2 linked regions of the Homo sapiens genome follow. The protein of the gene in region 1 interacts with the protein of each later gene in a biochemical or structural test. Each region holds a gene or a part of one and is shown in the gene's direction. Other genes may lie near its edges. The genes, in order: ADAP2 and RANBP9.

Region 1 (7,298 bases):
TTTTTAGGGTCTTAAAGGAACAATGGATTCGAGCTAAGTATGAGAGACGGGAATTTATGGCTGATGGGGAAACCATCTCGCTCCCAGGTAAAGTTATTTCCATCACCTTTTGAAATCTATGTTTTAATGAGCTCTAGAAAAACCAAGTGCCTAAATATTAGGAGCAAGATCCATCCAAGAGATGCCTGCTGTTCTCACTGTGGCCGCAGAGGCCAAGGTGTGGGTTCTTCTGACTTTGAAATAACAACACATCAGCTGGTGGGGCTTTATGCTCTGAGCAGCAGAGAAGCTCAGAGCTTCTATGGTCTTTGTCTCAGGTCTTTGCAGGGTCACAAGTGTGTACAGACTCTTTTTTTTTTTTTTTTTTTTGAGACAGGGTCTTACTCTGTTGTCCAGCCTGGAGTGCAGTGGCACTATCACAGCTCACTGCAGCTTCAATCTCCCGGGCTCACATGATCCTCCCACCTCAGCCTCCCAACTAGCTGGGACTACAGGCACATGCCACCATACCTGGCTAATTTTAGTGGCTTTTATTTTTTTATTTTTATTTTTTGTAGAGATGGGGTTTCACCATGTTGCCCAGGCTGGTCTTGAACTCCTGAACTCAAGTGATCCTTTCGCTTTGGCCTCCCAAAGTGCTGAGATTACAGGCATGAGCCACTGTGCCCAGCCAGACTCTTTTTCTTTTTCTTCTTCTTCTTTTTTTTTTTTTTGAGACAGAGTCTTGCTCTTGTTGCCCAGGGTGGAGTGCAGTAGCATGATCTCAGCTCAGTGCAGCCTCTGCCTCCTGGGTTCCAGCGATTCTCCTGCCTCAGCCTCCTGAGTAGCTGGGATTACAGCATCATGCTTGGCTAATTTTTGTATTTTTAGTAAAGACGGGGTTTTACCATGTTGGCCAGGCTGGTCTCGAACTCCTGACCTCATGATCTGCCCACCTTAGCCTCCCAAAGTTCTGGGACTACAGGCATGAGCCACCGCGCCCAGCATCAAACACTTAATGTAAATTGCAGAAAGACTCCTCCACTGGACAGACCAATTAGGAAAAGATATCCCTGCTCCTGGTGAGCTTTATTCCTGGTGCAGCTCAAGACTTGGTGAGGAGGATGGGCTTAAATTCAGCCTCCCTTTCGACCATTGTGCAGGGTACAACCTCTTCTGTGGCCCTGGACCTGTGGCAGTTTCACCCCCACGGTCCTGAGTCCAAGCTGACTCTGACCCAGACAGTAAAGTATAAAAAATCATTCTTAGAGGGCCAGAGGCAGTGCTCAGCTATCCTGGCTACCAGGACCACAAATTATTCTATTTATTTATGTATTTATTTATTGAGTCAGGGTCTCACTCTGTTACCCAGGCTGGAGTGCAATGGCGTGAACTCGGCTCACTGCAACTTCCACATCCCAGGTTCAAGTGATTCTCATGCCTCAGTCTCCCGAGTAGCTGGGATTACAGGCATGCACAACCACACCTGGCTAATGTTTATATTTTTAGGAGAGTCAGGGTTTTGCCATGTTGGCCAGGCTGATCTCAAACTCCTGACTTCAAGTGATCTGTCTGCCTTGGCTTCCCAAGGTGTCAAGATTACAGGTGTGAGCCATTGCACCCAGCCCATAAATTATTCTTCAAACCAGCAGATGCCCGGAGGGAGTCTCACTGTGTCACCCAGGCTGGAGTGCAGTGGCACAATCTCGGCTCGCTGCAACCTCCCCCTCCCGGGTTCAAGTGATTCTCCTGTCTCAGCCTCCTGAGTAGCTGGGATTACAGGCACGCGCCACCATGCCCAGCTAATTTTTGTATTTTTAGTAGAGACGGGGTTTCACCATGTTGGTCAGGCTGGTCTTGAACTCCCGACCTTGTGATCTGCCCGCCTCGGCCTCCCAAAGTGCTGGGATTACAGGCGTGAGCCACTGCGCCCTGCCTTACTTCTAAAGTTTCATTAGGTTGATGTCAGCATGAAGTTGGGCAGGACCATATGTATTTAGTATGTATTTAAGTGTCTTTCAGAATCAGTCCAGTTTCTCAGGACTTTGCCTTCTTAAGGGTCTTCTTATGAGACAGCCTGATACACAGAAAGTCAAGGAAGAAAGGTTTTAGGCAGTGGGAAGTGCCCCTGAAGTGAAAAGACATCACAAAGTTGGCCACAGATGGGATCCTTGTGTTCTGCAGCTGAAATAGGGAAGTCTGAGTGGAGATACTTTGGCAGCAGATGGAAGGCTTATTCCACCCTTGAGAACCTCAGAGGTTCCTGAGCTGCTTGTGATCTTAAGGTCACGTGTGTTCACGCTTTGTCATCCTTGCTGCTTAAGGTAACCGAGAAGGATTCCTGTGGAAGCGAGGAAGGGACAACTCACAGTTTCTGAGAAGGAAGTTTGTACTTCTGGCAAGAGAAGGCCTCCTGAAGTACTTCACAAAGGAACAGGTAAGATGCCAGACCAATGAGAGCAGGTCCCTTCCTGAGCACTCTCACCCGACTAAGGTCTACATTCTAATCAGTGGTGCCCTTTTCTTGTAGATAATCTCAGCCCCTGAGAGTTAGGCACAACATTTGGCTACTTTTCCTTGGCTATACAGTAAATCCAGTCCACCAAAAATCATACTTTCTGTCCACCTAGAATCAGCTTAGATAGGTCCATGTTTAAGCCTTTGATGACCACTTGGTTTTGCTTCATTTATTCATTCACTTAAGAAACATTTATTGAGTACCTACTGTGTGCTAGACATTATTCCAGGCACTGAGGATACAGCAGGGAACTAAACAAAACTCTTGTTCTCAGGGAGCTTTCAGTCTAGTGAAAGGAAAGAGCTCCGTAATCAAAACATCAATATATAATATACCAGGAGGCAATAGTTTTATAAAGTAAAATAGAAGTGGCTGCGCACAGTAGCTCACACCTATAATCCCAGCACTTTAGTAAGAGATTGAGGCAGGGGGATTGCTTGAGTTCAGAAGTTTGAGATCAGCCTGGGCAACATGGTGAAGCCCCATCTCTACAAAAAATACAAAAATTAGCTGGGTCAAGCACATACACCTTTGTATGGTGGCACATGCCTGTAGTCCCAGCTACTAGGGAGTCTGAGGTGGGAGAACTGCTTGAGCATGGGAGGTCGAGGCTGCATTGAGCCGAGATTGTGCCACTGTACTCTAGCATGGGTGACAGAGTGAGACCCTGTCTCAAAAAACAAAACAAAACAAAAACAAAAACAAAAACCGGGCATGGTGGCTCATGCCTGTAATCCCAGCACTTTGGGAGGCCAAGGCAGGTGGATCACTTGAGGTCGGGAGTTTGAGACCAGCCTGACCAACATGGAGAAACCCCATCTCTACTAAAAAAATATAAAATTAGCTGGGCGTGGTGGTGCATGCCTGTAATCCCAGCTACTCGGGAGACTGAGGCAGGAGTATCACTTGAACCTGGGAGGTGGAGGTTGTGGTGAGCTGAGATCGTGCCATTGCACTCCAGCCTGGGCAACAAGAGTGAAACTCCGTCTCAAGAAAAAAAGAAGTAAAATAGCGGAGAGTGAGAAGATAGACAACAATGAGAGTGTGTTAGGGAGTCAGGGAGTGCTGCTGCAGAGTGATCAGGGAAGGCCTCTCTGGTGACATTTGAGCAGATAACTGAACAAATGTGAGCACTGAGTTACATGGCTATGTGGGGGGAAGAATAGAAGAAAGGGGAGGAACAGTATGTGCAGAAGCCCTGAGCACAGGTATGGTCAAACACATACACCTTTGTACCGATTTGAGAAAGATGATCCCTTTAAGAGGGTGCAGCCCCTGGGCCCCAGTCTCGAAAATCAGAAGCCTGGTTTGCAGTTACCAGTCAGCTAGGAGCTTTTTATGCAGTGCACAAACGACTTAACCATAAGCTGCAACCCTGGCCCTGAGCTAGAAGTGTGTTTGGTGGGTGTAGGGCATCAAGGAGGGCAGAGCGACTTGTGCAGAGTGAGCAAGGAAAAGTGTGGAGGGAGATGAAGTCACATGGTGGAGGGCCTTGTAGGTCATAGCAAGACTTGGGATTTCTTTTGGTAACAGTTTATTGAGATACAATTCACATACCATATAATTCACCCATTAAAAGTATGCAGTCAATTGGCTTTTAGTGTATTCACAGAGTAGCACAACTATCACCACAATTCAGTTAAAAACTTTAAACACCTTATCCCTTAGCTGTAATCCCCCACCCCACCCCACCACTAGCCCTAGGCAACCAACAACTTACTTTCTGTCTCTATGGATTTGCCTAATCTGGTTATTTTTATTTTATTTTACTATTTTATCTTATTTATTTTTTTAGAGACAGAGTCTTCCTCTGTTGGCCAGGCTGGAGTGCAGTGGTGCAATCATAGCTCACTGCAACCTTAAATTACTGGCCTCAAGCACTCCTCCTGCTCCGGTCTCTCAAAGCACTGGGATTGCAGATGCATACCACTCCACCCAGCTAATTTTTATTTACTTATTTATTTTTGTAGAGATAGGGTTTTGCTTTGTTGTCTACGCTGTTCTCAAACTCCTGGCTTCAAGCAATCCTCTGCCTCAGCCTCCCAAAGTACTAGGATTATAGATGTGAGCCACTACGCCAGGCCCATATCTGTCTTTTTTATAATAGCCGTCTTCATGGGTATGAAGTCGTATCTCATTGTGGTTTTGATTGGCGTTTCCCACATGGCAAATGATGTTGAGCATCTTTTTAATGTGCTTATTGGCCATTTGTATATCTTATTTGTAGAAATGTCTATTCAGATCCTTTCCCATATTGGCCGGGCGCGGTGGCTCACGCCTGTAATCCCAGCACTTTGGGAGGCCGAGGTGGGCAGATCAGGAGTTCAGGAGATGGAGACCATCTTGGCTAACACAGATACTTTCCCCATATTTTAATTAGGTTATTTGTCTTTTTATTATTAAGTTGTAATAGTTCTGTATATATTCTAGATACAAGTCACTTATACATGTAGGATTTGCAAAAATTTGAGCTTTTGGATTTTACTGAGTGAGATGGGAAGAAATTGGAGGATTTTGAGCTGAGAAGTGATATTATTTGACTTAAGTTTTTGATTGATTGATTGATTTGAGATGGAGGCTCACTCTGTCACCTAGGCTGGAGTGCAGTGGCGTGATCTCGGCTCACTGCAACCTCTGCCTCCCAGGTTCAAGCAATTCTTTGCCTCAGTCTCTCGAGTAGCTGGGATTACAGGCGCGCACCACCATGCCTGGCTAGTTTTTGTATTTTTAGTAGACAGGGTTCCACCATCTTGGCCAGGCTGGTCTTGAATTTCCGACCTCGTGATCCACCCACCTCACCCTCCCAAAGTGCTGGGATTACAGGCGTGAGCCACCGCGCCCGGCCTATTTATTTATTTTTTGAGATGGGATTTCACTCTATTGCTCAGGTTGAAGTGCAATGGTGTGATCTCGGCTCACTGCAACCTCCACCTCCCGGGTTCAAGTGATTCCCCTGCCTCAGCCTCCCCAGTAGCTGGGACTACAGGCGTGCACCACCACACCCGGCTAATTTTTGTATTTTTAGTAGAGACAGGGTTTCACCATGTTGACCAGGCTGATTTAGAACTCCTAACCTCATGTGATCTGCCCACCTCAGCCTCCCAAAATGCTGGGATTATAGGCATGAGCCACTGCGCCCAGCCTGACTTAAGCTTTTAAAAAGCAGCACGCTGGCTGCTGCTAGGGTGAGTAGGGAGGAAGGAGGCCAGAGCAGAGGCAGAGAAATTAGTCAGGAAGCTGTTGCAATAACCCAAGTGAAGAAGAATGGTGGATCCGACCAGGATGGTTAGAAGTGGTCAGATTCTGGATATATTTTGGAAGTAGAGGCAATAGAATTTATTGAAGGATTGGATGTGGGGTGTGAGAGTAAGAGGAATCAAGGATGATTCCCAGATTTTTGCTCTATAAAACTACAAGAATAGATTTGCTATTTACTAAGGTGGCAAAGACTTAGACCCCTAAGGGGATGCTCAAAAGTCCTTTTTATTTTGAGATGCCTATGAGTCATCCAGTAGAGACATGGGGAAAGAAGTTGGATGTATGTTTCCTGAATTCTAAACCCAAGTGGCAGAAGTTGGATGTCTGATTTGGAGGCTTGGAGAGAGTTTGGAACTGGAGTCGTCAGCATGTAGACTGGTTTAGTAATGGGACTGGCTAGGATCACCTAAGCAGGAAAAAGGTGTTCAAGGACTGAGTATTTTGGTTATGTGTTGCTGAGTAACAAACCATCCTAAAACTTAATGGCTTAAAATATCAATTTACTATTTCTCACAATCCTATGGGTCAGGAATTTGAGGAGGCCTCGGCTGTTCTGGTGTACTCCATGTGGCATCAGCTGGGCTACTCTGCTGCCCTTAGCTGGCCAGAGACCCAAAGAAGCTTTCACTCATGTCTGGTGCCTTGGTGTACTCTATATGGGGGCTCTGTCTTTCTCATTCAGGAGTCTAGCTTAAGCTTTCTTGTGGCTTGGCTGCTGACTTCCCTAAACAAAAGCAAATGCTACCAGACCTCTGGAAGGCTAACCAGGAGCTGCATTCTGTTGGTCAAAGCAAGTCATGCAACAAGCCCTGATTCAAGGGGAGGGGAAATAGATTCAACCTCTTCATGGATAGAGGGTCACGTATACACTGGGAGGGAAAGACTGGGTGAGCGCCATCTTTGGAGACCATCTACCCCATTGAGCCCTGGGGCATTCCAGTATTTAAAGGACAGAAAGATAAGAAGTTTTCAGCAAAGAGAATGTGAAATTGTGGCCAACAAAGTAAGAGAAGGATAAGCTCTGAGCACTTTAGCCTTCACCTTACTCTATTTCCTATATGTAGAATTATTATATATTCCCCCTGTTGCTTTTCTAGGCAGACCAGAGCAATGCTAAAAGGTCTGTCTATGGGGAGGAGAAGGGAGGATGAAGAGAAGTGGGTTAAAGGGTACAAACATTGTAAGATGCAAGGAATAAATTCAATATTTGATACCAGAGTGGGGTAACTATGCTTAACAAAAATACTCTGGTGACCAACACCCTAAATATCCTGGCTTGATCACTACACATTATATACATGTAGCGAAATTTCACATGTACCCCATAAATTTGTATAAATAATAATATAAAAGGTCTGTCCAATGTGGCCACAGTCTGGGACCAAGTAAAAAGTGTTAAGGGATGAAGAATCTTTACCCTCCAAGTTAGAGGAAGAATTTTTTCCCAGTCTTCAATGTAAAGCACTGAAAAATGTGGCTTTTTCAACATTTTTGCTGAAATGGTACAAAAGGCCGGAAGAGAAAGCGCTACTGCAGTTAGGAA
Region 2 (4,136 bases), on another chromosome or scaffold:
ATCAGAGAAGCTCAAACTGATCCAGTAGAGGGCAGGATTCCTAGCTGGTCCTCCCCTGTTACCTGGTTCCCAACCATTTTGCTTGAGCTAAATTTGCAATGGGTAGCAGCAGCCTAAGCCACTGGTATCACAGCTCCCACCATGCTTATGAATATGGGCACAAGGGGCTTCCTGATGACTTGTGAGTACCCGGCAGGATCAAGCCTTGATGTCACATTCTATTTGCATTTATATTAGCCGGATTCAACTACATGCCCTTACCCAATAAAAAGGGTGGGTGAGGAAGAGAAAAGCAATTTAAAAGGCGAGGCTTAGCCAGGGGTGAGCATCAAGTGCGAAACGCTAATTCGATGTTCGTTTGGTTGCCATTCCTATGAGCAGCTCACTGTAGCGTTTGTGATTATAGTATTTATATACTGAACAAGTACTTTTTATATGAATTGTGTAACTGCACATATTGTGCATTTCTATATAAATGTGATAGGGTCGATTGTTTACATAAAACAAGTTTGAGTTTTGGGCAGTTCTCATCAAAGGTAATTTATATAAAGAGTGAGTTTTCATTTGACTTCAGAGTCTAATTCCCAGGTAATTGGGACTCCAGTCTAGTTTAGAAGTCTGTGCTGTGCTGTTTGGCCCTGCAAGGTTCAGGGACTTTTAGTCACATATTTCAAACTAGTTTAGGAAGATGAGGGCAGTGCCACAAAAAGTAGATTAAAGAGTAGTTTAGATAGGGAGACTTGCAATGAGGGCCAGGACTCTTACAGCAAGAATGTAAAGGAAGCAATGAAAAGCATTCATATTTAAGACTCAGTCTGTTTCTTTGCCCTTAGAAAATTTATTAATTTGTTAAGGACCAATACTGAAGTTTGGGAATAGGAGTAGTGTCCTCAGTGTTGTAGTTCTCCGGAATTTAGGATTTGTATATAAATGTGAATTTTCTTTGGTTAATGTGTTATATTTTCATTGGTTCTACAAAATTCATTTAGCTCCGTTGGTAAAAGTAACTTAGTAATAATGCTGGAATTGTAAGGAAAATTATGGTTTACTATAAATGTCTTTTTGAAGTTATATTGTAGGTAATCATTAAGACCTAATTATTAGATGATACTAATCTTTAAAGTGACCAGTTTTCTTACAATTTAGTTTCTTGAGTTCTTCAAGGGAATTTAATTGTTGAGCACCATTATCTATAGACACATATACTCTTACATATTGTGCTATATTATGTAGATTCAGCCATAAATAGTGCTTAATCTTATTAATATAAATGTATGCGATTCCTGTAAAATTAATGACACAATTATTAAACTGCTATAGATGGGCATGTATATGTTTATAAATACCATGCTATATTATGTAGGTCCATCTATATAGTGTTATGAAAATTTCATACATCCAAAAAAGTTAAAGATGCATCGCCAGATGCTTCCTTTGGCCAAAATAAAATTAAAAAAATATTCCCTGTAGATGTTTGTCTTTGAGCACGGTCTTCCCTGTGAACCCTCAAGACACCACACTTTCTCATCAATCTATGTGCCCTTTTTTGCACACGTTTATTCTTAATCCTGTTTTTGTTTTCTCTTCTACCTTTAAGTCCTGAATTTGCTTCTTTCTGATATTGTGCTTTTTCCCTTTTGGAAATTTCCTCTTCTTTCTTCCACCATCAAATTGCATCCTCTGAACCAAGAGTGGAGTTAAACCATATGAAGCCTTCCTAGCCATGTGTCAACTGTTTTTGCCCTTTGTTGTCAACTGTGCCTATAAAGAACTGATTAGTAATTTTATTGATTAGTTTGGACATTGCCTTCTCATAAAGAGAAATTACCAGCTTCTGAGTCTGGCCACTTTTACCATTAGTTCATTTTTTTCCATCTCTGGCAAGGAACAAATTTTGTTAATTATTGCATTTGTACTACAAATGTCTGACAAAGAAACTTATGATATGCAGGACCCTGAAAATTTATTGGCATTTTTTTAAATGTCTGAACTGTCCACTGTAAATTAGCACCTCCAAAACTGTGGGGTGGCTCTGCTGTATGTTCTCTCACTGTCACCACCACCACTTACTCCCCACCAGCCCAAATAACATTACCTATATATGCCTTGGAGATGGCTAGGCAGCCTGTTTGGTCCTATCCACAGAGGTGGAAGAACCCATCAGTGGAAACTTGTAATGAAAACCTGGTGCCTTTTTTAGTTTTAGTTAGTATCAACTGACTTTGATCAACCAGAAGGGAAATAATTCCTTACTCTCCACTCCAAATATCAGATAAAAAATTGTACCTTTCCCATCATAGTTAATATGGAAGTATTTTAGTATCTGATACTTTAAAAGTCTGATTCTGCCAGAGTTTATCTTATAGTTGAATACACAATACCCACACTACCTTGTCAGAATAGTATGTCCAAGGCGGCATCTGTCTTTTGCTTAGAAACCTTCATTTGCTGATATTTCAGAGTGGTATGGGAGTGGTAGTTTTTAAAGTCATTGCAGTATTCTCCTGATTGAAATGTTTTTTAAAATGTCTTGCTAATTGCTGTTCTCATTTTTAAATTATTTTTCCTCAGAAACCCACAATCTGCCAAAGCAACCTCCACTTGCCCTAGCAATGGGACAGGCCACACAATGTCTAGGACTGATGGCTCGATCAGGAATTGGATCCTGCGCATTTGCCACAGTGGAAGACTACCTACATTAGCTATGCATTTCAAGAGCTCACACTTATATTGTGGCATATAGTCAACATGGAAGTAGACCAGCTCTGCTGATTTGAAATTTAGATTTTTTAAATTATGTACTGGGGACAGGTTTTTGTCGCTTTACATTGCTTCCTAGTTTACAGCATGATGCAAATGATTTTCTAACTTAGTGTTAGGAGAAATTATTTTCCATCTTTAACCTCTTAGTTGTCTAAGAGTTAAATATTACTGAATTTCAGACGTTCAAATTGATCATCACAAATCCTTTAAAACAATTACCTAAAAGAAACCAAAAATCCTGCCTTCTTTGTGGGGGAGGGGGGAGAGAGGGGAAGGAAATGGAACAAGTTGTGTTTGTGTTAGCATGTGGGTGATGTAAACTTCAAATTGGGAGATGTTCCGACCCCCACTCCCATATAAGCATTCAATCAGTGTAACTTGCAAAATGCATAAACATCCGACAGTTTGAATTTATAGTGTTGATGGAAGAAATCATTTTTAATGTGTACTGTAAAACTTGAAATACTCAGGAGCTGAGTGAATATGTTTGTTGCTACTTACAATCCCGACCTGTTAGTCCCAGTAGTTTTGTTTTAACATGGTCTTTTTCAACTTTGTTTCCTGTTTAACTACAGATGACTTCTGTTGTAGACTCACAAGTTTAACTGTTGTATTATAACAGTATTACATGTCAACGGTGTGGTTATGACCTTTATTTATATAAAAACCAAATATTTAGTCAATTTACCGTGTCTTAATTTAATCTTTGTACACCTTCCATTTTTAAGTGCTTAAATGAGTACTATATTGCAATAAAATGTAGTGATATAATTAACCAGCCATTAAAAATTTACTTCTACAGATACAGTGTCAATTGAGTTTATATATTAGGTACTTGCATACTTTTTATGATTACTATGAAAATTAGAGCAATTAAAATTAATGGTTTCTACAATTAATCTGAGTTCTACAACCTAAAATTGCCTTCAGTTTACTGGCATCCCTGGATTAGGGTTAGACCTGATATTGTGGCTGACACAGAAAGGCAACAGGAAATTAACTTCATTATTTTCATATTCATAATATGGCATATGAGACTCACCAGGCAAGCAAATCCCCAGACTGGTTAAAAGTAAAAATTTAAAAGCTGTTAGCTATATTTTGTGCACTGAATCTTTAATAGCAAATTGTCTACAGGCTGCAGTTAGAGACTTTGCTGGAATATCCATTTCTCCTTTTAGTCCGTGCCATTTTTGCCACCCCTCTAACCCGGGGAGAGTAGAAGAGGTGCTGTTGCTGATGTGGGTATGGCTTGAATTCAGTTAAATATATTAAAAAGAAAACAATTCCTTCTTAAACCACTTTTTCCTCTAGGATTGCAAGGCACAGTTCTACTCCAGAAGAATGAAATGTGGTTGAGCACTTCCTCAAAT

What was found.
Region 2: the proteins of ADAP2 (region 1) and RANBP9 form a complex in vitro, tested with the Homo sapiens proteins (one study listed by BioGRID).

Annotation. Positions count from the first base shown.
Region 1 is NC_000017.11:30,931,882-30,939,179, forward strand, and holds part of ADAP2 (arf-GAP with dual PH domain-containing protein 2), read left to right. Parts: intron 1-7; coding exon 8-87; intron 88-2,303; coding exon 2,304-2,416; intron 2,417-7,298. UniProt on the Homo sapiens protein: GTPase-activating protein for the ADP ribosylation factor family. Binds phosphatidylinositol 3,4,5-trisphosphate (PtdInsP3) and inositol 1,3,4,5-tetrakisphosphate (InsP4). Possesses a stoichiometry of two binding sites for InsP4 with identical affinity.
Region 2 is NC_000006.12:13,620,928-13,625,063, reverse strand, and holds the end of RANBP9 (ran-binding protein 9), read left to right. Parts: intron 1-2,571; coding exon 2,572-2,702; 3' UTR 2,703-3,566; downstream 3,567-4,136. UniProt on the Homo sapiens protein: May act as scaffolding protein, and as adapter protein to couple membrane receptors to intracellular signaling pathways. Acts as a mediator of cell spreading and actin cytoskeleton rearrangement.